7 linked regions of the Homo sapiens genome follow. The protein of the gene in region 5 purifies or fractionates together with the protein of the main gene of each other region. This does not show direct contact. Each region holds a gene or a part of one and is shown on either strand. Other genes may lie near its edges.

Region 1 (3,500 bases), on a different chromosome or scaffold from region 5:
CTGAATTAAAACAAGGCTGAGATATTTTTAAAAATTTACATATGGCAAATCCATGTTTCATTCTTTGAAAAGCAACCTACAATAGAGAAAGACTAAGTCACTGAATTAATAGATGTAACTAACATTATTTATAATGTTAAACTATATAAAAGAGGCCAGGCACAGTGGCTCACACCTGTAATCCCAGCACCTTGGAAGGCCAAAGAGGGCGGATCTCTTGAGGTCAGGAGTTCAAGACCAGCCTGGTCAACATGGCAAAACCCTATCTCTACTAAAAATATAAAAATTAGTCAGGTGTGGTGGCAGACACCTATAGTCCCAGCTACTTGGGAGGCTGAGGCAGGAGAATCACTTGAACCCAGGAGGCAGAGGTTGCAGTGAGCTGAGATCGCGCCACTGCACTACAGCTTGGGTGACGAGTGAAACTCTGTCTCAAACAAGCAAACAAGACACAGTATCAGTCTGAATTTTTAATTCTCCAGAATAACAAAGCTTAAAGCAAAAGGAAATATTCCACCTCTCCTCCTCCAAAAGAAAAATCAACAGGGTTCAAGGCACCCCGGAAGTTTCTACAGATCCAACACCACAATCTTAACCTAACACTACTACTGTCTCAAAACTTTTAAGAATCAAAGGGATTGTCTCCAATAAGCCTTTCCCAATGAAAAGCCAAATATAAAGTACTGATATAGAAATCTATACATTCTTAAAGGTAACCCAAAGATTATGCTAACTGCAATATGACAGATACGTTACCAGTAAGATTCAAACCCAGGCACAGAGCCAAATCACTCTGAATAGATATTGTGATTAACTGATTACTGAGAGAGGGTTCAGTCATACATCTCATAGATCAATAACTTGTTATAAATCTCATAACATTCCAAATCGCTGCTTGTTTTTCCAAGATTTAACATGAGCCAGTCATAAGTCCTCATAATATTAAGATTCTAGGGCTGATCCTGTCATCAATTTACTTAAAAACAACTGATAGTTGGACAGGCCTGGTGGCTCACACTTGTAATCCCAGCACTTTGGTAAGCCGAGGCAAGTGAATCATGAGGTCAGGAGTTCAAGACCAGCCTGGCCAACATGGTGAAACCCCGTCTCTACTAAAAATACAAAAAAATTAGCTGGGGGTGGTGGTGGGCGCCTGTAATCCCAGTTACTTGGGAAGCTGAGGCAGGAGAGTCTCTTAAATGCCAGAGGCGGAGAATGCAGTCAGCCGAGATTGTGCCACTGCACTCCAGCCTGGGTGACAGTGTGAGACTCCATCTCAAAAAATAATAATAATAAAAAATAACTGGCTGGGTGTGGTGGCTCACACCTGTAATCCCAGCACTCTGGGAGGCTGAGGCAGGCAGATCACAAGGTCAGGAGATTGAGACCATCCTGGCTAACACAGTGAAACCCCGTCTCTACTAAAAAAATACAAAAAATTAGCCAGGCATGGTGGCGGCTGCCTGTAGTCCCAGCTACTTTGGAGACTGAGGCAGGAGAATGGCGTAGACCCAGGAGGCAGAGCTTGCAGTGAGCTGAGATCGCGCCACTGCGCTCCAGCCTGGGCGACAAAGCGAGACACCGTCCCAAAAAAAAATAAAAATAAAAATAACTGTTAGGGCCAGGCGCGGTGTGGCTCACACCTGTAATCCCAGCACTTTGGGACACTGAGGAAGGCGGACCACAAGGTCAGGAGATCAAGACCATCCTGGCTAACACGGTGAAACTCCATCTCTATGAAAAATACAAAAAATTAGCCGGGCATGGTGGCAGGCGCCTGTAGTCCCAGCTACTCGGGAGGCTGAGGCAGAATGGTGTGAACCCGGGAACCAGAGACACAGCCAGACTCTGTCTCAAAAAAAAAAAAAAAAAAAAAACTGATAGTGCATATGAAACATTGCTTTCAATCACAGCCAGACATTTTTCCAGAATACACAAAGAACAGGCAGATAAGGTAGAACACAAAACAAACAGTGCAAACTTTTGTAAAGTCTCACAAAAAGAAACAGCTTTTTACAGCGAGGGAGGAAGGGCATAAGGGTTGAAAAACGGTTGGGTACTATGTTCAGCACCTGAGTGACGGGATCATTGTATCCTAAACCTCAGCATCACACAATATACCCGGGTAACAAACCTACGTGTGTACCTCCTGAATCTAAAATGAAAGTTGAAAAAGATAAAAATAAAGAAACAAGCAGCCTGGCCAACATAGTGAAACCTTGTCTCTACTAAAAATACAAAAATTAGCTGAGAGTGGTGGAGGGCGCCTGTAGTCCCAGCTCGGGAAGTGGAGGCTGCAGTGGGCTGAGATTGAGCCCCTGCACTCCAGACTGAGAGACTCTGTCTCAAAAAAAAAAAAGAAACAAGAAACAAGGCCGGGCACAGTGGATCACGCCTGTAATCCTAACACTTAGGGAGGCTGAGGTGGGAGAATTGTTTGAGCCCAGGAGTTCGAGACCAGCCTGGGCAACACAATGAAACTCTCTTAGTTCTGTCACCCAGGCTGGAGTATAGTGGCTCACTGCAGCCTCCACCTCCTGGGTTCAAGTAATCCTCTCACCTCAACCTCCCTAGCAGCTGGGATTACAGGCCTGCACCACCACACCTGGCTAATTTCTGTATTTTTTGTACAGACAGGGTTCGCCATGTTGCCCAAGCTGGTCTCAAGCTGCTGGGCTCAAGTGATCCACCCACCTCAACCTCCCAAAGTGCTGGGATTACAGGCCTGAGCCACCGTACGTGGCCGGAAACAGCTTTTTAAACAACTCCACACCTGTAGGTCAAAAACTTAACGAGACCAGCCTGGCCAACATGGTGAAGCCCCATCTCTACTAAAAATACAAACTCCAGCCTGGGTGACAGAGCGAACACCATCTCAAAATAAATAAATAAATAAATAAATGAACTTAACAAGGGCAGGGACCAAATCAGAAAATGCTGCAGTACTCCACAGTTTTATCCTCTTTCTACATTCTCTGTGTTCTCATCCTATTTCATAACTTAACTACTATTTAACACTCTAAAAAATACAAATGTCAAAGTAAAGTGTACTACTGTTTCTGCAAAGTGGGAACAATATTTGCTTATATGTCCACAAATATTTTTTTCCAAGGAGATCTAAGAAACAGCTAACAATGTTTGGCTCCAAGGAAAGCTGGATGACAAGGGTACAAGAAGTGGAGGGAGATTTTCATTCTATTCCCTACTGACAATTTTATATTTTGGTTTTCTGTTTGTTTTAGAGACAGGGTCTCACTCTGTCACTCAGGCTGGAGTGCAGTGGTGCAATCACAGATCACTGCCACTTCCAACCTGGTCATCTGGCCTCAGCTTCCCAACAGCGGGTACTACAGGCGTGCGCCACCACGCCTGGCTAATGTTTTTTAAATTATTTTTTGTAGACATGGGGTCTCACCATGTTGCCCAGACTAACATCTTAAATTTTGAGCCATGTGAATACAGTTTTTGTTCAAAACATTAGTATACCAATAAATAAATGC
Region 2 (3,179 bases), on a different chromosome or scaffold from region 5:
TTGCTGGGAGTGCTGATTCTGCTCATTCTGGAGCTTATATTTCCTCAGTTCCAGAACTACTTCTTATAAAAGTTATAAATCACAACATTTAAATAAGATCCCAAAGTGCTACTGCCTTCTTAGAAATTCAGCTATAGTCATTATATTAATAAATCTTTGTATAGGTGAGAGATGGGTTTTGGTCTGTTCACCCTCAATCCTGTTCTTTCCTGACTTTAAGTCGATTCATTCACCACTCACTCACTCACCAGCATTTACTGTATAGCTACTACAGGGCAAGCCCTGGGCTAGGGAGTCAAAGAGAAATGACGACTGAAGTACGGTCCTGGCCCTGGAGCAGTGTAGTCACATTCTACAATGTACAGTTGGATTAATGCTAATTACTTACTCAGACTTCGCAAAAGGAAACAACCAGAGAAACAGTCTTTTTCCCATGATCGTAAACACTCCCTATCTGGTGGACTTGCTGTTCTTCCTTCTATATTCAAAAACAACCAATGCCTCTTTTACTTTTAACTTTATTTGGCAAAGCAGCACTGCATAAACTGTTCAAGAACTAGGACACAGCTTACACAGCATGTTAAGTTCATATACATTATCAGCAGCAAATTAGAAACAGAAAACCACACTAAACTACAAGTCTCCTATAATTTTGAGAGAGAGAGAAGGGAAGAACTAAGTCAGTTATGTCCAATCTGAACAGCTGAGTGTTTACAGGACATCACCTGCCATCTTATGGTTTAATATTTACAAATGCCTAGTTTTAAGGTAACAAAGCAGCTGATTGTATCTACAACATGCTATTCTATGACACCACATCAAAAGCTTTAAAAAGAAAGCTCATCTCTATTTTCTTAGTAGCATCTAACAGATATCCAAATACCAAGAATCTTAACTTGTGAATGGTGGTGTTATCCAATGCACAAAAGCAATCTGATAAATTAATATCAGAACAGAATTAAGTGTCCAAGAAAAGAAAAACCACTCCTCAAAATCAATTCACAAACTAAGTTTTCCATTTTACAGAACCCTTTCTTTTAATATTTCCAAGTAAAATATGGGCATGTTAAAGTAATATTACACAAATTTATACTTTGCATCCTTCCTCTACCAATTTGGCTCTGTGCCTCTTTGAAGAATCAGAAACCCTAAAAAAACACACATTTTCATGCTGAAAATAACAGTGTAACAAAGTCCAAAACAAGCTGTGATGGTGTTGGTTTTCAAAAAGCTTTGAGGACTGAGATGAGCAATCCACTGTAATTTTATACTGGTCAAGCTGATGTTGCTTTTACAATTCATCCCTGTGAGGAAAAAAGAGAGAAATACATTAGTAGGAGTTACACACTACCCAATTTGGCTTTATAATAGTTTAGACACAACTATTAAGTCAATAAAAATGCGCTGATCACCAAGCAATATATTTAAAAAATAAAAATGCAAACAACCCAAGTGAAAGCAACAGAGGGTCAGCCATTCCAAACATCTTCCATGCCACTCCAGAACCAAGTATGCAACCTAAAGGGCGTGAGTTCTTCATTTTTGATTTCTAAAAATAGATTTCTTCCTTCAATGTCAAAATTCAGAAAAAATATCTTTTAGATCTACGGTCATCTTTACACTATAGTAAAATGACAACTTAAGTGTTTTAGAGTTCAAATGAGTTGATAGTTACATTCACAAAATTGGACAGAAATGTGGTCTTTTGCTCAGAATGTCCACTAGCAATTGTGGAGTGGGTCAATCTCAACCCAAGCGCTCTGAGAGAAAAGGCATCATCTGTAGGTATAATATACCTGTCAGCTGATTTCATAAGGCAGCTTTATCAGCTCCAAAAGAAACCATTCACTCAGCCAGGTGCAGCACTGTACCAGCAACTGCCAGTGAGAGGAAGGAAGGAATAAAAATGCAGTCTAAAATAAACTGTATGGTATCTCAGTTATACCTCAGTAAAACTGTTAAAAGTGAAAAAATGAATAAAACCACGAGAGAAGCCCACAAGCCTCATAGCTGAAGGTAATGTGAGTGACAAAAACAAGAACTTTAGGGGTAAAGAAGCATGATATTGATAATTAAGTCTCAAGTGGTTTAAGAAAAAGGAAAAAAATTACATATATGTATATATAGAAAGAGGGGAAAGAAATGTAGAAAAATGATAATAATTGATGACTCTGGATGAAGAGATTTAGGAGTTATTTGTACTATCCTAGCAACTTGTTGGCAATAAAAATTAAAGTTAAAAGTTTTGAAAAAGTTGTTAAGATAAATTTGAAGGGAAGAAGAAATAAAGAGCTCATAATTTCACAAGTAAGTGGGGGTAAATTACTGGACAATTTTTTTAAACTAAATTTTGTAAATTGTGCAAGAAAATATTTTTAAAATCATTTCTCCAATAAGCTGCCTTTATCCTATAGTATTGGATTATCTATTAAATGACAAATCATAAGTCTGCTTCCTCTTAATATATTCTTCCAAATAACAATGTTATAATTCTCATAGAACAGCTTTTACTTAACTCATGCAGGCATTAAAATATTTGGTCAACAAAGAATTATTTGCAAAGTGCTCTATTCATAAAGTAAAATTCACTTCTGCTTTTTAGAATATGAACTGAAGATATTGTTTTTCTTGTTTTGGCTTTTTTTTTTTTTTTTTTTTTTTGAGACAGAGTCTCGCTCTGTCACCTAGGCTGGAGTGCAGTGGTGTGATCATGGCTCACTGCAACCTCTGCCTCCCAGGTTCCAGCAATTCTCCTGCCTCAGCCTCCCGAGTCGCTGGGATTACAGGCAGGCACCACCATACCCGGCTAAATTTTTTTTGTATTATTAGTAGAGACAGGGTTTCACCACGTTGCTCAGGCTGGTCTCGAACTCCTGACCTCAAGTGATCTGCCCACCTCAGCCTCCCAAAGTGCTGGGATTACAGGTGTGAGCCACCATGCCCAAGCCAAAGATATTGTTATTTTTAAATAATTTACTACAATTTGCCAGGGGCAGTGGCTCACACCTGTAATCCCAGCACTTTGGGAGGCCAAGGCGGGCGGATCATGAGGTCAGGAGATCGAGACCATCCTGGCTAACATGGTGAAACCTCGTCTCTACTAAAAATACAAATAATTAGCCGGGTGTGGTGGCATGCACCTGTAATCCTAGCTATTCGGGAGGCTGAGGCAGGAGAAT
Region 3 (3,500 bases), on a different chromosome or scaffold from region 5:
AATCGTGTTGTATGAAATGTTTTATAATCTGTTTTTTGTTGTTGTTAATAATTGCCATCTTTACATGTCAATAAATTTTTATTTAATATCCAGTCCAGGGCATACTCCGGTTTCTCCAGTTGTTCCAGAAATGTGTTTTTACAGCTGGTTCATCAAACCAGGGTCCAGTCTAGATCTTCACGTTGCATCTGGTTATCTGCAAGTTAACAATGGAAAGCATGACTTTACAAATAGTTTCATGTAATAATGTTGAAGAGATGATAAGAGTTATAGGTATTCTATGGCACGAATGTAATTACTGGTTCAGGTAAGGATTATCATTGATAGGTAACTGCCTTAATACAGTTACCATAATAATACCATAAGCATTACTTTATTACATAAGCCAAATAATACCATAAGCATTACTTTATTACATAAGCCAAATAATACCATAAGCATTACTTTATTACAATCCAAGGGGTCCCTTTTTCCTCACGATGCTGGCTTGTTAAAGAGACTGCCAGTTGTCCTGCACAATGACCCGCTTTCCAACTTTGCCTGGTTGTTTACTCCCGGTATCGTTTGGTTTATTACCCAGCCTTATCCTTAATTTCCTGTAAACCAGACTGTAGATTTTAAATGACTGATATTGGGTGGGCACGGTGGCTCACGCCTATAATCCCAGCACTTTGGGAGGCCAAGGCAGGTGGATCACTTGAGGTCAGGAGTTTGAGACCAGCCTGGTCAGCATGGTGAAACCCCATCTCTATTAAAAATACAAAAATTATGCCAGGTGCGGTGGCTCATGCCTGTAATCCCAGCACTTTGGGAGGCTGAGGCAGGTGGATCACAAGGTCAGGAGTTCAAGACCAGCCTGGCCAACATGGTGAAACCCTGTATCTACTAAAAATACAAAAAAATTAGCCAGGCCTGGTGGTGGGCATCTGTAATCCCAGCTACTCAGGAGGCTGAGGCAGGAGAATCGCTTGAACCTGGGGAGGCAGAGGTTGCAGTGAGCCGAGATCGTGCCACTGCACTCCAGCCTGGGCAACAGTGCGAGACTCCATCTCAAAAATAAATAAATAAATAAATAAAAAATTACAAAAATTAGCTGGGAGTGGTGGTGGGTGCCTGTAGTCCCAGTTACTCAGGAGGCTGAGGCAGAAGAATTATATGAACCTGGGAGGCAGAGGTTGCAGTGAGTCAAGGTTGCACCACTGCACTCCAGCCTGGTCAACAGAGCAAGACTCTGTCTCAAAATAAATGAATAAATAATAAAATAAATAAAATGACTGATATTAAACATTTTGTTTAGAATACATTTTAGGTAATATTATGTATGTATTTCACGTTGGGCCACATCAAGCAACCCATAATATTGTTAATATGACTCGTCATTAATGACGTTCATAATTGGCCCCTGGATCTAGGGGATGGTGGTTTGATTTCTCTATCATTGTTACATTTCCTTGTTGCTAACTATAAAATAATGCATATGGTATTTGGCCACTGTATTAAGGCAGTTACCTATCAATGACACACAAATTGATAATCCTTACCTGAACCAGTAATTACATTTGTGCCACAGAATACCTATAAGTCTTTTCTCTTCAACATTATTACATGAGATTATTTGTAAAGTCATGCTTTCCATTGTCAACTTGAAAAATTCTTGATTTGGATGTAGTCCAATTCCTCACCATTTTTTGCCTAATGCTGTATCCTTATGGTCTTGTTTAAAAATGTTTTTCTGATTTTCTGTTACCTGTGAGCTTTGTAGTTTTATTTTTATTTTTTGAGGCAGAGTCTTGATCTGTCACCCAGGTTAGAGTTCAATGGTGTCATCTCGGCTCACTGCAACCTCCACCTCCCAGGTTCAAACAATTTTCATGTCTCAGCCTCCCGAGTAGCTGCGATTACAGGCGTGCACCATGACACCTGGCTGATTTTTTATTTTTTATTTTTCTAAATGGAGTCTCACTCTATTGCCCAGACTGGAGTGCAGTGGCATGATCTCGGCTCACTGCAACCTCTGCCTCCCGGGTTCAAGCGATTCTCCTGCCCTAACCTCCTGAGTAGCTGGGATTACAGGCGTGCACCACCATGCCTGGCTAATTTTTGTATTTTAGCAGAGATGGGGTTTCACGACGTTGGCCAGACTGGTCTCGAACTCCTGACCTCGTGATCCGCCCGCCTTGGTCTCCCAAAGTGCTGGGATTACAAGCATGAGCCACCACACCCGTCTAATTTTTGTATTTTTTGTAGAAAGGGGGTTTTGCCATGTTGGTCAAGCTGGTCTCAAACTCCTGAGCTCAAGCGATCTGCCCACTTCGGCCTCCCAAAGTGCTGGGATTACAGGTGTGATCCGCTATACCTGACCTATAGTTTTAAATATGGATTTTTTTCATATATGGGTATTTTAATCTAAATGGAACTCACTTTTGTAAATATGATTGTGAAGGGATTTAGCTCATTTTTGTCTTCCATAGGGTGAGGTAGTTTTCCCAGTGCCAGGTATTAAACAGTCCAGAGGTAGCCAGCACCCAAGACAGCCACCAGGGGTTCTTGCCTCCTGGTTTCCAGGCTCTTGTTCAGTCCCCTCCCACACCAAATAGGGCAGACCTTTTCAGATCCTCACCAAGGAGACCCTTGTGTATGACCAATAGGACATTGCAGAAATGACAGCATGTGACTTTGAAGCTAGGTCATAAAAGACATTACAGCTTCTGCCTCTCTTTGAGATCACTCACTCTATGTGAATGCTATGTGAGGACACTCAGGCATCCCTAAGCAGAGGTCCACTTGGTGAGGAACTGAAGCCCCTGCCGACAGCAAGCACAGACTCCCCGCCATAGTGGTGACCTGTCTCAGAACCAGAGCTTCTAGGCCCAGGCAAACCTTCTGATGACTGCAGCCCTAGCCAAAATCCAGACTGCAGCTTCATGACAGATTCTGGGCCAGGGCCACCCAGCTAAGCCCATCCCAAATTCCTGACCCACAGAAACTATGTGAGATAATGTTTATTTTTATTTATTTATTTTTAAATAGAGACAGAGTCTTGCTCTGTCGGCCAGGCTGGTCTCGAACTCCTGACCTCAAGCAGTCCTCCAGCCTTGGCCTCCCAAAATGCTGAGATTACAGGCATGAGCCTCCACACCTGGACTGTTGTTTTAAGCTGCTGAGTTTGTAGTAATTTGTTACCCAGTAACAGAGAACAGACTTTGGTTTCTGGAATGGGGGTCTGCCATAACAGAAACCTCAAATGTAGAAGTAACTTTACAACTGAGAAGTGGGAAGAAGCTGGAAGGACTTTGAGGAGATTGTTAGTAAAAGCTTAAGGAGTGTTAAAAAGTATTGGCTGGGCACAGTGGTTCACACTTGTAATACCATAACTTTTGGAGGCCAAGGTGGGAGGATCACTTGAGTTCAGGAGTTCGAGACCAGCCTGAGCAATATAGTGAGACCTTGTCTCTAAAAAAATTAAAAGAAAAAAGGTGAGAAAGTCTGTTAATAAGAGT
Region 4 (3,500 bases), on a different chromosome or scaffold from region 5:
ATTATTCTGAAATTCATACAAAGGGTTATAGGGTATACCTCTCCTTTCACCCCACATCTTCCTCCTCTCCATACTCACCCATCTTTCTGCTTCCTTCCAGCCCAAACTTTTTTTTTTTTTTGAGACAGGGTCCCGTTCTGTCACCCAGGCTGGAGTGCAGTAGCGTGAACATGGCTCACTGCAGCCTCAACCTCCTAGGTTCAAGCAATCCTCTTGCCTCAGCATCGTATGTAGCTGGGACCACAGGCACATGCCACCACTCCTGGCTAATTAAAAAAATGTTTTTTTCTTTTTTCTTTCTTTTTTTTTTTTTTTTTTTCTGAGACAGTCTTGCTCTGTCGCTCAGGCTGGAGTGCAGTGGCGCAATCTCAGCTCACTGCAACCTCTGTCTCCCAGGCTCAAGCAATTCTTTTGCCTCAACTTCCTGAGTAGCTATGATTATAGGTGTCTGCCACCACGCCTGGCTAATTTTTGTATTTTTAGTACAGACGGGGTTTCATCATCTTGGCCAGGCTGGTCTTGAACTCCTGACCTTGTGATCCGCCCACCTTGGCCTCCCAAAGTGCTGGGATTACAGGCATGAGCCACCATACCTGGCCTAAAATTTTTTTTTGTAGAGATGGACTCTCACTTTGTTGCCCAGGCTGGTCTTGAACTCCTGGGCTCAAGCAATCCTTCTGCCTTGGCCTCCCAAAGTGCTGAGACACCACAGTTAGCCCAGACAGAACTTTCTAGAGTGGCCTACACATGTTATCTCCACTGCAACCCTGCCTTTTCACTCTGTGTCCATCACCCCACTGACATTTCTCTTGTCAACCCCACAAGACCAAAGAACAAATCCATTGGATTTCTGGATGTCAGTAGCATTCCAAACACTGACCGCTCCTTCTACAAAACACTCATAGTCTCCTTTTGTTCATTCTCTTCTTCCCAAACTCTTTTTTTTTTTTTTTTTTTTCTGAGACAGGGTCTCACTCTGTCGCCCAGGCTGGAGTTCAGTGGCGCGGTCTCAGCTCACTGCAACCTCCGCCTTCTGGGTTCAAGAAATTCTCTGCCTCAGCCTCCCAAGTAGCTGGGATTACAGGCACCCGCCACCACGCCCGGCTAGTTTTTTGTATTTTTAGTCAAGACGGGGTTTCACCATCTTGGCCAGGCTGGTCTTGAACTCCTGACCTCGTGATCCACCCGCCTCGGCCTCCCAAAGTGTTGGGATTACAGGCGTGAGCCACGGCGCCTGGCTCTTCCCAAACTCTAATGGAATTCTCTTCTTACCACTCTACTTAACATTGCAACTTCCCCCCCACCTCCATCTCCCACATTCCTGATCCCTCTCACTTTGCTATACTTCTTCACAACAGCACTTACTACTTTCCAGTATACAAGATAATCATTTTTTCCATTTGTTATTAATTGTACGTCTGTGCTTGCAAGATAAAGCTCTTAATCTAATAGCGTAATAACATACAACACAAATTGCAGTGAGTGCTCTGAAGGGAATAAACTGGGAAAAGTGATAGCAATTAGGGTGGAATGGGGTGGTGGAGCCAAGCCCTGAGGCAGAAAAAAAGAGCTTGGAAAGATCTAGGAACAAAAAGAGACTCTTTCGGAAAAGATGAAGTTATATGAAATGAAGCTGAAGAGGCAGCCAGGGACCAGATTCTGTACTGACTTGTAGACCCTGAAAAGGACTTTAGATTTCATTTTATTTTTGAGACGGAGTCTTGCTCTGTCGCCCAGGCTGGAGTGCAGTGGCACGATCTCGGCTCACTGCAACCTCCACCTCTCGGGTTCAAGCGATTCTCCTGCCTCAGCCTCCCGAGTAGCTGGGATTACAGGCATCCACCACCACGCCTGGCTAATTTTTGTATTTTTAGTATAGATGGGGTTTCACCATCTTAGCCAGGCTGGTCTTGAACTCCTGACCTCGTGATATACCTACCTCAGCTTCCCAAAGTGCTGGGATTACAGGTGTGAGCCACTGCGCCTGGCCAGATTTTAATTTAATTTAATTTAATTTTATTTTATTTTGAGATGGAGTTTCGCTCTTGTCACTCAGGCTGGAGTGCAATGCCCCGATCTCGGCTTACTGCAACCTCTGCCTCCCAGGTTGAAGCAATTCTCCTGCCTCAGCCTCCCAAGTAGCTGGGATTACAGACATGTGCCACCACACCCGGCTAATTTTTGTATTTTTAGTAGAGATGGGGTTTCTCCATGTTGGCCAGGCTGGTCTCAAACTCCTGAGCTCAGGTGATCCACGCACCTCAGCCTCCCAAAGTGCTGGGATTACAGGTGTGAGCCACTGCGCCTGGCACCAGATTTTATTATCTGATCATTGAGAAGCCAGGTTTTCATCAGAGAGTAATGACTGGCTTTGTATTTTAAAACATTTACTCTGGCTTCTAAGGACAGATATTATAAGAAGGCAAATAGGGAGATTAGAAAGGAAAATGATGTAATAGTTCAGGTAAAAGATGGTGGCAGCTTAGGTGGGGTGGGAGTAGGGTGCTGGGATTGAAGCAGCAGACAGGTCCAAGCTGTAGCAGCACTTGCATCTGGATTAAGCGTAGGGGGTAACAGAGAGGATTAAATTAAGATGGTTCCCAGGTTTCTGGATGGTGCGTCTGGGTGGATTGATTGTGCCATTTTCTGAGATGGGAAGGACTGAGGCAAAACATAGTTTGGTATATGAATTAAGTTATGTTTATTCGCTTTGGATATGTTTGGTTATAGATTCCTGTGGTACATCAACATCAAAGTGGATATGTTAAGGACGTAGCTGGATATAGGTTTGGAGTGCAAAGGATATATTTGGGCTGCAAGTAAACATTTGGGAGTCATCATCATATAGGTGGCATTGGGAATGGATGAAATACCTAGGCAGAGAGTGTAGATTCATTTATCCATCAATTTAATAAATATTCATTGATTATTTCATATAATTTAATCATTTAATTTAATCAATATTCATTGATTATCTAATGTGTAGGTGTTCTAGTTATTTAGGATTCATTAGAGAACAAATAGATAAAGACCTCTACCCTTCTGTACTTTATAATCTTGTAATCATATTATAAGTAATTGCCAATGTACACTCCTCTACTGATGTTTCTTGACCTCTCTACTGCACTTTTTCTTACTGCAGAGAGGTCAAGAAACATGAGAATGGGAGTGTACATTGGCAATTACTAGGTATAATTAAACCTTTAAGAATCAAAAGGCAAAAGTCTTACCTTTAATGTCGTTAATTTCTTCCTTAATGATTTTCCTAAACTTTGACAGCATCTTAGAAGCTGATAATATTTCACCTTCTAAAAACTGACTCAGAGGATTTTCTTTCGGATTTCTTTTAAATTTCACAAAGTAATATGCACGAGTGTTGGAATATTCTTCTAGTTGAATTCTGGGGACTTCCAGTTTAAACATGACATCAAATTCATTAGGTGCAGAAATCTAAGAAACAGTAAAAATAGTACTGAAATATTTGCTTATGAATATTTTCC
Region 5 (3,500 bases):
AAGGACTCCATTACATTTTAACTTCTGGTGTATATCATATAATCTATTTTGTTAACCGTCAATTTAGAATTCTGAAGATGTAGACACATTTGCTATATGTAAAACTGCCCACTATAAGCTTTTTATTCAAATAAACAATTAGGCCAATGAGTATGTACACAATAAATACATTTTTAGTTTTTCAAAAATCATCTTTTTAATCTATCAACTTTGCATATCTTTAGCTTATTCAGATTCCGTCTTTTTAAAGTTTTATAGTTTAGTTTTTTTCAAACTTTTAAGCCCAGCCAGTTCTCTCTCATTTAAAAAAAAAAATGCTCTTATGGTTTTCTCCAAACAGGTTGTTTGTGGGTTTCATGGAATGTGGTATATAGTAAACTACATAATTGCAGTTTAACTCTTCTTTTTTTCACATTTAGGTTCCTTATCGATTACATGCCGTTTTAGTTCACGAAGGCCAAGCTAATGCTGGGCACTACTGGGCATATATTTTTGATCATCGTGAAAGCAGATGGATGAAGTACAATGATATTGCTGTGACAAAATCATCATGGGAAGAGCTAGTGAGGGACTCTTTTGGTGGTTATAGAAATGCCAGTGCATACTGTTTAATGTACATAAATGATAAGGCACAGTTCCTAATACAAGGTAAGAATATATAGGGTGGTGTGTATTTTTAAATAGTCATAAAAGTGGCTCTGGTATGTGGTGTGATTAGTTAAGTGTAATTCACTCAGACGATGAAGGATGTGGTTAGGAAATGCTACTGGGTTTTGACAAGACTGAATTGAAAAGTAATGTCGTCAGGGCTAAGAATTCGTATATATTTTGTATTCCAAGTCAACTATTAAAGGTAAATATGACCTTTTTCGTCCTTGCTAAAAATGCTTTAGTGACTGTTCCACAGATTGACTCACATTTAATATTTAATTCCTTAGCCTAACATATATGGCCTCTGTTCTTGGCCTCTGATTATCTCCCCACCTTCATTGATCACCAGTGTTCCTTTTGAATTTATATCCTTACTGAACTTCTTGCTGTATCTGCTCATATCAAACCATTTCACACATTTATGTTTGCATGTTCGTATATGTTTTATTTTTTGCTAGTAATTCTTTTGCCTAATTCTTGTTTATCTGTCAAGATTCAATTCAGGTGTCATTTCCCCTGCAAACTATTTCTTGATCTGCCAAAAAGTATCTCTCCTTATGCTGTCCTGGCATCTGTCTACTGGGCATTTACTGTTGTGTATTGGAACTGTGTGATGACTTGTCTTGCACATTTCTCTCTTATCTGCTCAGAGCCAGAGATCATGTCATACTATGTCTGAATCTTTTTAATGCTGATATTCTGATATATGCTTTGCATATAGAAAATAATAAAGGTTTATTGAAACTGATAAAAATAATCTTTTTATATTTAGTCATTCAGAATCAGCTAGGCAGTCCACTTCTGACTAAAAAAATGAAGTTATTTTTCTGTGTGTGTAGTAGAAGTTCAGTAATTCTTCTGAATACTCTATTGTTTTTAAGATCTTGCTATATTAATTTTCATAATTGCATATTTAAGTCTACTTAATTTCTTCATATGACAAACAATTTTCATTTTATTTTGAGCTAATAAGGTTAACATGATTATGAGTTGTTTACATTTTGTGAAAAGTTTTACTTTTTAAGTGATCAAACATCTGGTATTTTCCAATAGTGGCAGAAGTAGTATTACATCACTGTTAGAGTAGCAAAGAAAAAAAAAAATGGCCGGGCGCGGTGGCTTATGCCTGTAATCCCAGCACTTTGGGAGGCCAAGGTGGGCAGATCATGAGGTCAGGAGATCGAGACCATCCTGGCTAACACAGTGAAACCCCATTCTACTAAAAATACAAAAAAATTAGCCGGGCTTGGTGGTGGGCACCTGTAGTCTCAGCTACCCGGGAGGCTGAGGCGGGAGAATCGTCTGAACCCGGAAGGCGGAGGTTGCAGTGAGCCGAGATTGTGTCACTGCACTCCAGCCTGAGTGACAGCATGACACTCTGTCTCAAAAAAACAAACAACAACAGCAACAAAAAACTTGGCTTTGGCTTTGTATTTTCTGTCACTTCTACTCTTAAGATAAAAAAAAATCTGAGACCATTACCTATGATGGATTATCAAATATTTTCATCATTGTTTTTCTGAGCATTTGTTTGAGTTTTAAAAAGTTTTGTAGATAATAATTATTTGCTAAGCAATAGTAATTCTTAAGTAATATGATTGGCTGAGTGGTAATAATTCATAGTTTAAATTCTATTTGAAATGCAGTCTATTTTGAGCTTTGCATTTTCCCTTTAATTCTTAATTTTATACTAGTTTTTGAAATATGATTTGCAGAGGAGTTTAATAAAGAAACTGGGCAGCCCCTTGTTGGTATAGAAACATTACCACCGGATTTGAGAGATTTTGTTGAGGAAGACAACCAACGATTTGAAAAAGAACTAGAAGAATGGGATGCACAACTTGCCCAGAAAGCTTTGCAGGAAAAGCTTTTAGCGTCTCAGAAATTGAGAGAGTCAGAGACTTCTGTGACAACAGGTTTGTCCATTTTTATTAAGTTGTGTTTGATTATCAATATTATTTTTATAATAAGATATGCTCATTATTAAAAAGTTTTAGCTATCTTAAAGTGTGAGGAAATCAGTAGAAATCATTTCAAATTCCATCACTCAGATTATCACAGTTAACAATTTAGTTTACCTTTTTGCCAGACACCACTGTATATATTTATATGTTTTTCAAGATAAATGAGATAATTCTGTTGACTTTCCCTCTACCTACTCTGCCTGTGTTGGGTGGGCTTGAATTTTCTTGGCAAGTAGCAGAGAAAGCTGTGAAATCAGCAAGAAACCCAAACCAATTCACTAAAGCTATCAAGAGTATCAATTCAATAAAGCTATCAAGAGTATCAATTCAATAAAGCTATCAAGAGTAGTAATTTTAAATTTGGCCAAAATAATACTACCGGTATATTCATATATACTTTGTGCAATAGTAAAATACTACCATTAATAACTATTTGATGTTTTTCGGAATTCTTAAGATTAAGAGAAAATTGACCAAAACTATTTAGTATATCACAGGTAAAAAGTAAGTGTATAGACCTGTAAACCAAAGATATAAATGCATAAACATATAAATATTTAAAAACATTATTCTGAAATGAACTATTAGCTGATGAAATCAATAAGTCAAAGTAAACACTGTATAGGAATTAAGAAAATAGTTTCTAGTAAAATTGAAAATATATTGTCTTTTTATTTTCTTAAAAGATTACTCTTCACTGAGTTGCAAATATGTTTTAGGGCAACATGTTTTCTGGTATAGAAAATGCTATTTCTCAGAGAAGCTATAAATTAAGCGCATATATTTTCCTCAAACTCATTTGTCTCTTTTTATAACTGCTAGTGGATATTATTGAATAACTTTTTTTTTTTGCAAGATCTGCATGTTTTGTGTTTTAAGGAAGTA
Region 6 (3,945 bases), on a different chromosome or scaffold from region 5:
AAGGTTATACAGCTAGTTAGTGGCAACAGGAGGGATTTGAACACAGATCTGTTACTGTTCAGTTGGGAAGAATTTAAGTTATGGCTTAAAACTAGGATTTTGCATTTAAAAACATTGCTCTGAGAAGGGATCCATAGGTTTCATCATTCTGCCAAAGGGATCCCCAGCAGCAAAAAAGTTATGAACTCCTGCCCTGAATTCTGCACCATTACAGAAAACCAGAACACACCTAGCAAACAACTGGACAGCAAATGGAGCAGCAGAGTGCACACCACCAGACCCCGCTGGAGAACGCCCATCTAGAATTGTGCAAGCACAGATTGAAGGGAGGCCTGCGGGGCAGCATGGGTACCCAGGGCTGAGAAAGACAGTCACGGTTTTCTTTGGGGAGGTGTTTTGTCTTCCCCCATCTCCTTAGTACCTAGCTCCATGCCTGGCAGTTTCTCAGTAGCTGTTGGCCAAGTTGAAGTGAATCTGGATCTAGGTTGGAAGGCTAAGGCTGGAATACAGAATATTTCCCCTTTTTATAGGTACATGGAGCCAAGAACATGTGGAGGAATAAGAATGCTAAGAATGACAAATATACATGTGGCTTTTGACAGTTTACAGAGCACTCCATTAATCACTAGCTCACTCTATCCTGAGAAGTGGCAAGGCAAATATTTGTATTACTTCCAATTTACAGGGAAAGCAACTGGGCCTCAGAGGGTGACTTGCTCCGGTTTGCAGAGCTAGGAGGTGGCAGGCTGTGCGCTCAAACTCAGGCTGTCTAACTCCACATTCTGTGGGGTGAGAGGATGGGTGATGGGGTGTCTTTTCTGGAGGAGGGAGGTGCTGTGAGCCTAGCGAGATGGAGGTACAGTGGGTGTGGGCCTGGAGCGCTGGGCCCAGGCAGGGGCTTCTGATTAGGAAGCCCTGGGGCACCAGTTCAGGTTCTCCCAGAGAGTAGTGTGATGGGATCCAGTAACCTGTGCCCTCCAGATGACTTCTGTAGGTGTGTTTAGTGACATGCTCAACGGGTGCGGGAAGGATGGGCTTGTGCCAAGGGCCAAGCCCAGAGATGTTTCAGATTTTTCCCTTTATGCCCCTGCAACCAAGCCCTGCTGCTCCAGGACATATAAGAGACGAAGGCTGAGGGCTCCAGCACTCACCGGCCTGGGCCCTGTCACTTCTCTGATAGCTCCCAGCTCGCTCTCTGCAGCCATGATTGCCAGACAGCAGTGTGTCCGAGGCGGGCCCCGGGGCTTCAGCTGTGGCTCGGCCATTGTAGGCGGTGGCAAGAGAGGTGCCTTCAGCTCAGTCTCCATGTCTGGAGGTGCTGGCCGATGCTCTTCTGGGGGATTTGGCAGCAGAAGCCTCTACAACCTCAGGGGGAACAAAAGCATCTCCATGAGTGTGGCTGGGTCACGACAAGGTGCCTGCTTTGGGGGTGCTGGAGGCTTTGGCACTGGTGGCTTTGGTGGTGGATTTGGGGGCTCCTTCAGTGGTAAGGGTGGCCCTGGCTTCCCCGTCTGCCCCGCTGGGGGAATTCAGGAGGTCACCATCAACCAGAGCTTGCTCACCCCCCTCCACGTGGAGATTGACCCTGAGATCCAGAAAGTCCGGACGGAAGAGCGCGAACAGATCAAGCTCCTCAACAACAAGTTTGCCTCCTTCATCGACAAGGTGAGCTGTGTCCTCGGCTGGAGAGGGGCAGTTAGAAGAGAGGGGTCCTGAGTCCTGGGGTCTCAGACCTGAGCCTGCCACAGGTGCTGGGGAGACCACTGAACTTCCCTGGGCCCCAATTCTCCAGCTGTTGAAGGGGCATCATGACTTTGAGCCTTCCTTTTTGTCCCGTGGCTGGTGGGAAGGTGGGATGCTCAAGGCAGTTAAGTGTTTGGAATTCCCTAGACAGGCTGTGGGATACTGGACAAATCATTTGGCTTTTCTGGCTCTAGTCATCCCAGCTATAAAGGGGGTTCATTATTTCTCTGCTTTTTCTCAGATTTTGGTTTTGAATATAATGCAGTTAACCCCATTAATCACTTAACAGTGGCCACTTCTGTTCTTAGAACAGAAGACAACTAAGCTGATTTTGCAAATGAAAAAGGGACTGGCTCCAGTGGCAGATTCTAGGTCTCACCAAGGCCTTGGAAATTTACTTTTTTCATTCCTTTGACTGGACAACACTGCTCATGTCTGGGTCTGTTTGAAGAAAGGAGACAGGTCTCTTTTCTTTTTGTAGCCCAACTTCCTTTTTCATGCAACGTCTAGAAGTTCAAGTTCTTTAAGCTCAGTTATGGTCATGCATGATGGATGATAGTGAGCAGTGCAGCCCCAGAGAGCCGAGTCATCCAAAGATTGATGACTGGGTGGATGAGTGCCTCCCTTTGGTCCAGGTTGCCCTGGTTCACCAGGCATCAAAGTCTTGGGCAGCTTCGACATATGGGGCAAGAATGAACACTTTTGGAATAGAATAAGGTGCATATTTGTTCTTCTTGCTAGTTTGAATAAACCCATAGTAACTTAAAGAGGTTTTACTGTGACTATAGGACATGCAGATGTGATAGCAAAAACTCAGGGCTCTTTGATGCATCCTTGTCTCATCTCATCTCATTTTACCTTTTGGGTTCAAAATGTGATCGGTCTGCCTTACCTGCTTTCCTTTCAATTCTGAGGCTCATAACATGGAAATGTCATGCTAAGCTGCTGTCCTGGTTTGTCTGGCTAGATTTTTTCATAGAGAGAGGGAAAGTTCAGGAAAGTCCTTTGCAGAATGGAGTTTAGGTGAGACAATGCGTACAGGGCCCTTGTTTTAAATATCTATACTCAGTTGTTCACAGGTTCACAGGGACACGCCAGATCCATTGATAAGTAAGCTTATTTAAAAAGTCTGTAGTGACTTTGTCTTTCATTTGCCTTGGGTCAGGATCACTTTGAATGCAAGAGCCTCCAGATTGTGATGTCTCTTAATTTTATTTTGTTATTTCATAGAAGTTTAATGTTCTTTGGGGCTTTGGGTGCCTGCGGCTAGGAAGTTGTTCTTGTTGCACTGTTAGGCCCTGCTTCTCTGGCTGTGCTCTATTCTCCACAACCTATGTGACCCCTTGGTGCTATGGGCTCGAGAATGGGGCCATCATGTCAACCCGAGTGAATGGTGCCCTGGAGATGCAACATAGTGGCCCTACTTGGGTGGTTCTTGGGCCGTGTAGTTCCCTGGGATTGACTGGGTTGGTGTTGCCTTGGCTGGCCCTCCTGCCACACTTCAGGCCCTCATCACTTGGCTGGTGCCTTTATCAACACAGGTGCAGTTCTTAGAGCAACAGAATAAGGTCCTGGAGACCAAATGGAACCTGCTCCAGCAGCAGACGACCACCACCTCCAGCAAAAACCTTGAGCCCCTCTTTGAGACCTACCTCAGTGTCCTGAGGAAGCAGCTAGATACCTTGGGCAATGACAAAGGGCGCCTGCAGTCTGAGCTGAAGACCATGCAGGACAGCGTGGAGGACTTCAAGACTAAGTACATGGGGAGGAAGGAGGGGACGCCATCTGACACATGTGCCCAGCCACACCCAGGCTCCCGGGGCTCTCTCCAGTGGCTTAGAATCTCAGGCTCTGAAGGCGTCTAGGAAGGCCCTCTAGTCTGTTTTGCTACATCCACATAGTCACGTTTTCTCAGGGTGAGGTCTGGTAACCACAGATTTTTCCGAAAGGAAATTTAATGATAGATTCAGGGATTTGGGTCTGCCATATACGAACAAGATCAGAACCCAAATAGATGAAAAGCAGTATAGTATGATTAGAAGAATACAGACTGTAGAGACAGATGGAGGTGGTTTGCATACTGAGTCCTCACTTACTAGCTGTGTGACCTTGGGTAAATAGCTGAACCTCTCTGAGCTTCAGTTTTATTCATCTTTGAAATGGGGATAATATTCCTACTTTATGGGTTGTGAGAATTAAATG
Region 7 (3,249 bases), on a different chromosome or scaffold from region 5:
CATAGCCCTAAATTTTTGGCTCAGATTTAATCTGATCATCTGCAGATAAAGTAGAGAAGATCACAATACGATGCTAATATAATTCTCAAATAATCTTTCACAAAAACATTTTTCCTTTGGGATCCCAGGTCGACAAATCTCTAAGGTAATTTTACACAATCCCTTCTCATCAGGCAAGATGGATCCTCTTGAAGATCAGGGAGACTAAACTCGGAATTGTAACTGCTCTTCTGGTTTAGATATGGCTGGCAGTTCTTCTGTGGTGATGAAAAGCCAGTTAGCATCTTCCATAATCTAATTCCCCAAACACAACCAGCAATGAGTTTTGATGAATAAGGTTAGATTTTGTCAAATTCTTTTTTTCCTTGAATAAAAAGGCATATTCACTCATCCAAGCTGCTCAGAGCTGTAAATTCTGATCACATTTTGCCATGCCAAAAATATAGATATTTAATCAAAGGAAGTCAAATCAGACAATAATGGGATGTCTCAGACCAAAATGACATTAAATGTTTTTATTGAACAAAAAAAGATAAAACATGGAAGTTGAATTTACTGAGCAAAAGCAGCTCTCCAGGTGAAGCTGCTATACTTTGTGCTAAATAACCTTATGAACTGAGTATACAGAATACATATAATATGCAAGTTACCTCAACAGCAAAGGAGAAGGAGTAGAATACAGTTTTTGAAGATAAAATCTGGTCAAGTGACAAATTTTGTTGCTCAAAATTTCTAGCCCTTATCCACCTAAATTCTGTATGGTTCTACATATATGCATTCAGTATGTGCATACTGAATTCCCATTTTAATGGAAGCTGCTTTTTGGAAGAATTCTTTTTAATTTCACATTTCTTTGATGTGCCACTCAATTTTTAAAAAAATTATATTTGACATATGTGCATGTGTGTATGTGTATGTATGTATACACACTTTAAAAACACCAAACCCTTGTTTATAAGTAGAGGGTTCATGCTGCTTTTTAAATTAATATTAGTGAATTTAAGCTACTTCTCCTGTGTGTCTAGGAAACTTTGTGTTCTCAATGCACCCACACAGTCAAGTGGGTTGACAGATATGTCAAAAATACTTTATGAAAAGAGGGAGGTAGCTCATGCGAGTTGGCAACCTTTTGTGTATTGTTTCCTGTTCAAGCAGGCTGCCTCCCTTTGACATCTTACAGTCAAAGATGAAAGGAAAACTTTTTACTTGAAGCCTAGTGAGCACAGTTGTACATTTACTATAATCCACCTTCAACTTGGCTTATTGGGTTTACTAATGTAAGATGACAAATACCTTACACCCAATACACAGCATTTAAAAAGTACTGAAGAAACATTTTATAGACAATACTTTTTTTTTCATATGTTAAACATCAGCTTCTATGGGATACATTTCCAGAATGGTTGTGTTACCACTTTATAAACATTCTAGGCCAAACAAAGAGCACAAATAACATCAATGTTGTCTTTTTTCCAATATCTGTATCAATTACCAGAGGGTAATCCTAACATATATACTACTTAAGGGGGAAAAAGAAGAGAATTTATGACACATTGCAAAGATAGAACTACAGCATCTTAGTTGTAGAGATGATCTTAAGGTGCAGAAAGAGGGGACTCTCTAGAAGGTGATGGTGTGGTTTCTTCTGGTGGAAAAACTGTGAGTGTGCAAGCACGAATGCCACCAAGGGATTCTGGCAGATCAAAAACCTTATGCCATTCATCTTTATCTGGATCATATTTCTGCACTATCTCTACCATACAACGATTATTCCAAGAATACCCCCCAACCACATAGATTTTATTTTCGAAGACAGCGACCCCAACATCACTCTGCCCTCTTAACATGGCAGCAATTGGGGTCCACTGGTCAAGGATAGGTGAATAGTATTCACAGCTTAGGACATCATCATAATCACTTGTTCCTCTGAAGTGATTGCCACCAATGACATAGAGCCTTTCTCCCACTGTACACATGCAATGCAGACCTCTGACAGTGGTCATTGGCGCCTTCTGGATCCATTTGTCAGTATCAGGGTCAAAGCACATGAGCTCCTTTTGGAAAGTATCATGAGTAATTCCTCCTAAAGAATGAAAACAATAGTTTTGAAGTAAATAATTATAGAAATGCAAAAGTAATTAAAGGAGCTCTGTCACAGATAACTTTTAGTCACATATTATGACATATACCTTATCAATACTGTTCTTAGGACTGTCTTCCCTCTATAAATACATTCTCTGGATTAAAAGTAAAGAAAATAGCATTTTCATCTTCTTAAAGAACAAAACAATTACTTTTTTTGCAATCACTTACATTATTGCAATGACTTTCTCAAATGTAGATCCCTGGTATTTAAAAGGCTTTGCTGAAGGAAAATATATTTTGATCACTGATAGAGTTGGGTCTGTAGTAAATTCCAACTACAAAGCATCATTCACTACTTACTGCCTTTTAGTGGGTACCCTCTGGGTACTGAGCACTGGGCTAGAGCACATTAAATTCCAGGTTCCCATTTCCTCACTTGTCACAAAACAATATCTACTCTAGTTATTGCATCAGGATTGTGACTCTGAAGTGAGATATTTATCAAAATGCTTTGAAAAAGTTGAAAGTCTTGCACATGTGTAAAAGCTTATAAGAATATTCAGAATTGTTTATGTTTATAGAGTTTTCTGTGGGCAGAGTGAGGGTGGATAATGTCATCTCTTATCAGAATGCATATTTAAAAATCTAAAGAATTAGAATGCTGAATATACGTGGAATTTTATACATGCACCAATTTGTTGTTAATCTAATTTAGTCTGTATCATCTACAAAGTGTACTCTTAGATCACATATAAACCAGTCTCTACAATGAAAGTATTAAACGATACCTTCTGTAGACAAGGGAAAGAAGTAAGCTAATCTTTAGTCAAATCATTCAAACCTTTACTGTCAAATGGCCAGATGCCAATCACTATCACTGTTTCCTTCTGCTTTTTAAAAATATTTTCCTTGTGCTTTACAGAATTCCCAGAAAGCAAAACAGTGTTCATTGTTTTGAAAATCAGCTATAGTTTCTAACCACTCTTGATTGGGAAGGTCATTTCTGCAATATACGCCAGTTATGCCAAAACACCACTAAAACAATTCAGGTGTCATTTTTCTCAGAGGAGTTGGAGCTCTCATTATAATGGTACAGCAGCTGCCCACATAAAATAGATAGATGGTGTAAATCATTGATTAATGGGAGCATATTTATTACCTGGA

The links.
Region 1: the proteins of USP25 (region 5) and CUL2 purify together in Homo sapiens (affinity purification with mass spectrometry; 2 studies listed by BioGRID and IntAct, with this or other methods). This does not show direct contact.
Region 2: the proteins of USP25 (region 5) and PCMT1 purify together in Homo sapiens (affinity purification with mass spectrometry, with the first as the bait; one large-scale study listed by BioGRID). This does not show direct contact.
Region 3: the proteins of USP25 (region 5) and KCTD13 purify together in Homo sapiens (affinity purification with mass spectrometry; 3 studies listed by BioGRID and IntAct, with this or other methods). This does not show direct contact.
Region 4: the proteins of USP25 (region 5) and CGAS purify together in Homo sapiens (affinity purification with western blotting, with the first as the bait; one study listed by BioGRID). This does not show direct contact.
Region 6: the proteins of USP25 (region 5) and KRT4 purify together in Homo sapiens (affinity purification with mass spectrometry; one large-scale study listed by BioGRID and IntAct). This does not show direct contact.
Region 7: the proteins of USP25 (region 5) and KLHL13 purify together in Homo sapiens (affinity purification with mass spectrometry; 2 studies listed by BioGRID). This does not show direct contact.

Annotation. Positions count from the first base shown.
Region 1 is NC_000010.11:35,083,842-35,087,341, forward strand, and holds part of CUL2 (cullin-2), read right to left. Parts: intron 1-3,500.
Region 2 is NC_000006.12:149,808,741-149,811,919, reverse strand, and holds the end of PCMT1 (protein-L-isoaspartate(D-aspartate) O-methyltransferase), read right to left. Parts: intron 1,305-3,179; coding exon of another isoform or gene 1,292-1,304; 3' UTR 501-1,291; downstream 1-500. UniProt on the Homo sapiens protein: Initiates the repair of damaged proteins by catalyzing methyl esterification of L-isoaspartyl and D-aspartyl residues produced by spontaneous isomerization and racemization of L-aspartyl and L-asparaginyl residues in aging peptides and proteins.
Region 3 is NC_000016.10:29,916,227-29,919,726, reverse strand, and holds part of KCTD13 (BTB/POZ domain-containing adapter for CUL3-mediated RhoA degradation protein 1), read left to right. Parts: exon of another isoform or gene 1-196; intron 197-3,500. UniProt on the Homo sapiens protein: Substrate-specific adapter of a BCR (BTB-CUL3-RBX1) E3 ubiquitin-protein ligase complex required for synaptic transmission.
Region 4 is NC_000006.12:73,442,298-73,445,797, forward strand, and holds part of CGAS (cyclic GMP-AMP synthase), read right to left. Parts: intron 3,451-3,500; coding exon 3,231-3,450; intron 1-3,230. UniProt on the Homo sapiens protein: Nucleotidyltransferase that catalyzes the formation of cyclic GMP-AMP (2',3'-cGAMP) from ATP and GTP and plays a key role in innate immunity.
Region 5 is NC_000021.9:15,830,982-15,834,481, forward strand, and holds part of USP25 (ubiquitin carboxyl-terminal hydrolase 25), read left to right. Parts: intron 1-419; coding exon 420-648; intron 649-2,345; coding exon of another isoform or gene 2,346-2,359; exon of another isoform or gene 2,360-2,366; coding exon 2,367-2,567; intron 2,568-3,500. UniProt on the Homo sapiens protein: Deubiquitinating enzyme that hydrolyzes ubiquitin moieties conjugated to substrates and thus, functions in various biological processes including inflammation and immune response.
Region 6 is NC_000012.12:52,811,317-52,815,261, reverse strand, and holds the start of KRT4 (keratin, type II cytoskeletal 4), read left to right. Parts: upstream 1-1,145; 5' UTR 1,146-1,203; coding exon 1,204-1,665; intron 1,666-3,284; coding exon 3,285-3,499; intron 3,500-3,945.
Region 7 is NC_000023.11:117,897,313-117,900,561, forward strand, and holds the end of KLHL13 (kelch-like protein 13), read right to left. Parts: intron 2,084-3,249; coding exon 1,596-2,083; 3' UTR 501-1,595; downstream 1-500. UniProt on the Homo sapiens protein: Substrate-specific adapter of a BCR (BTB-CUL3-RBX1) E3 ubiquitin-protein ligase complex required for mitotic progression and cytokinesis.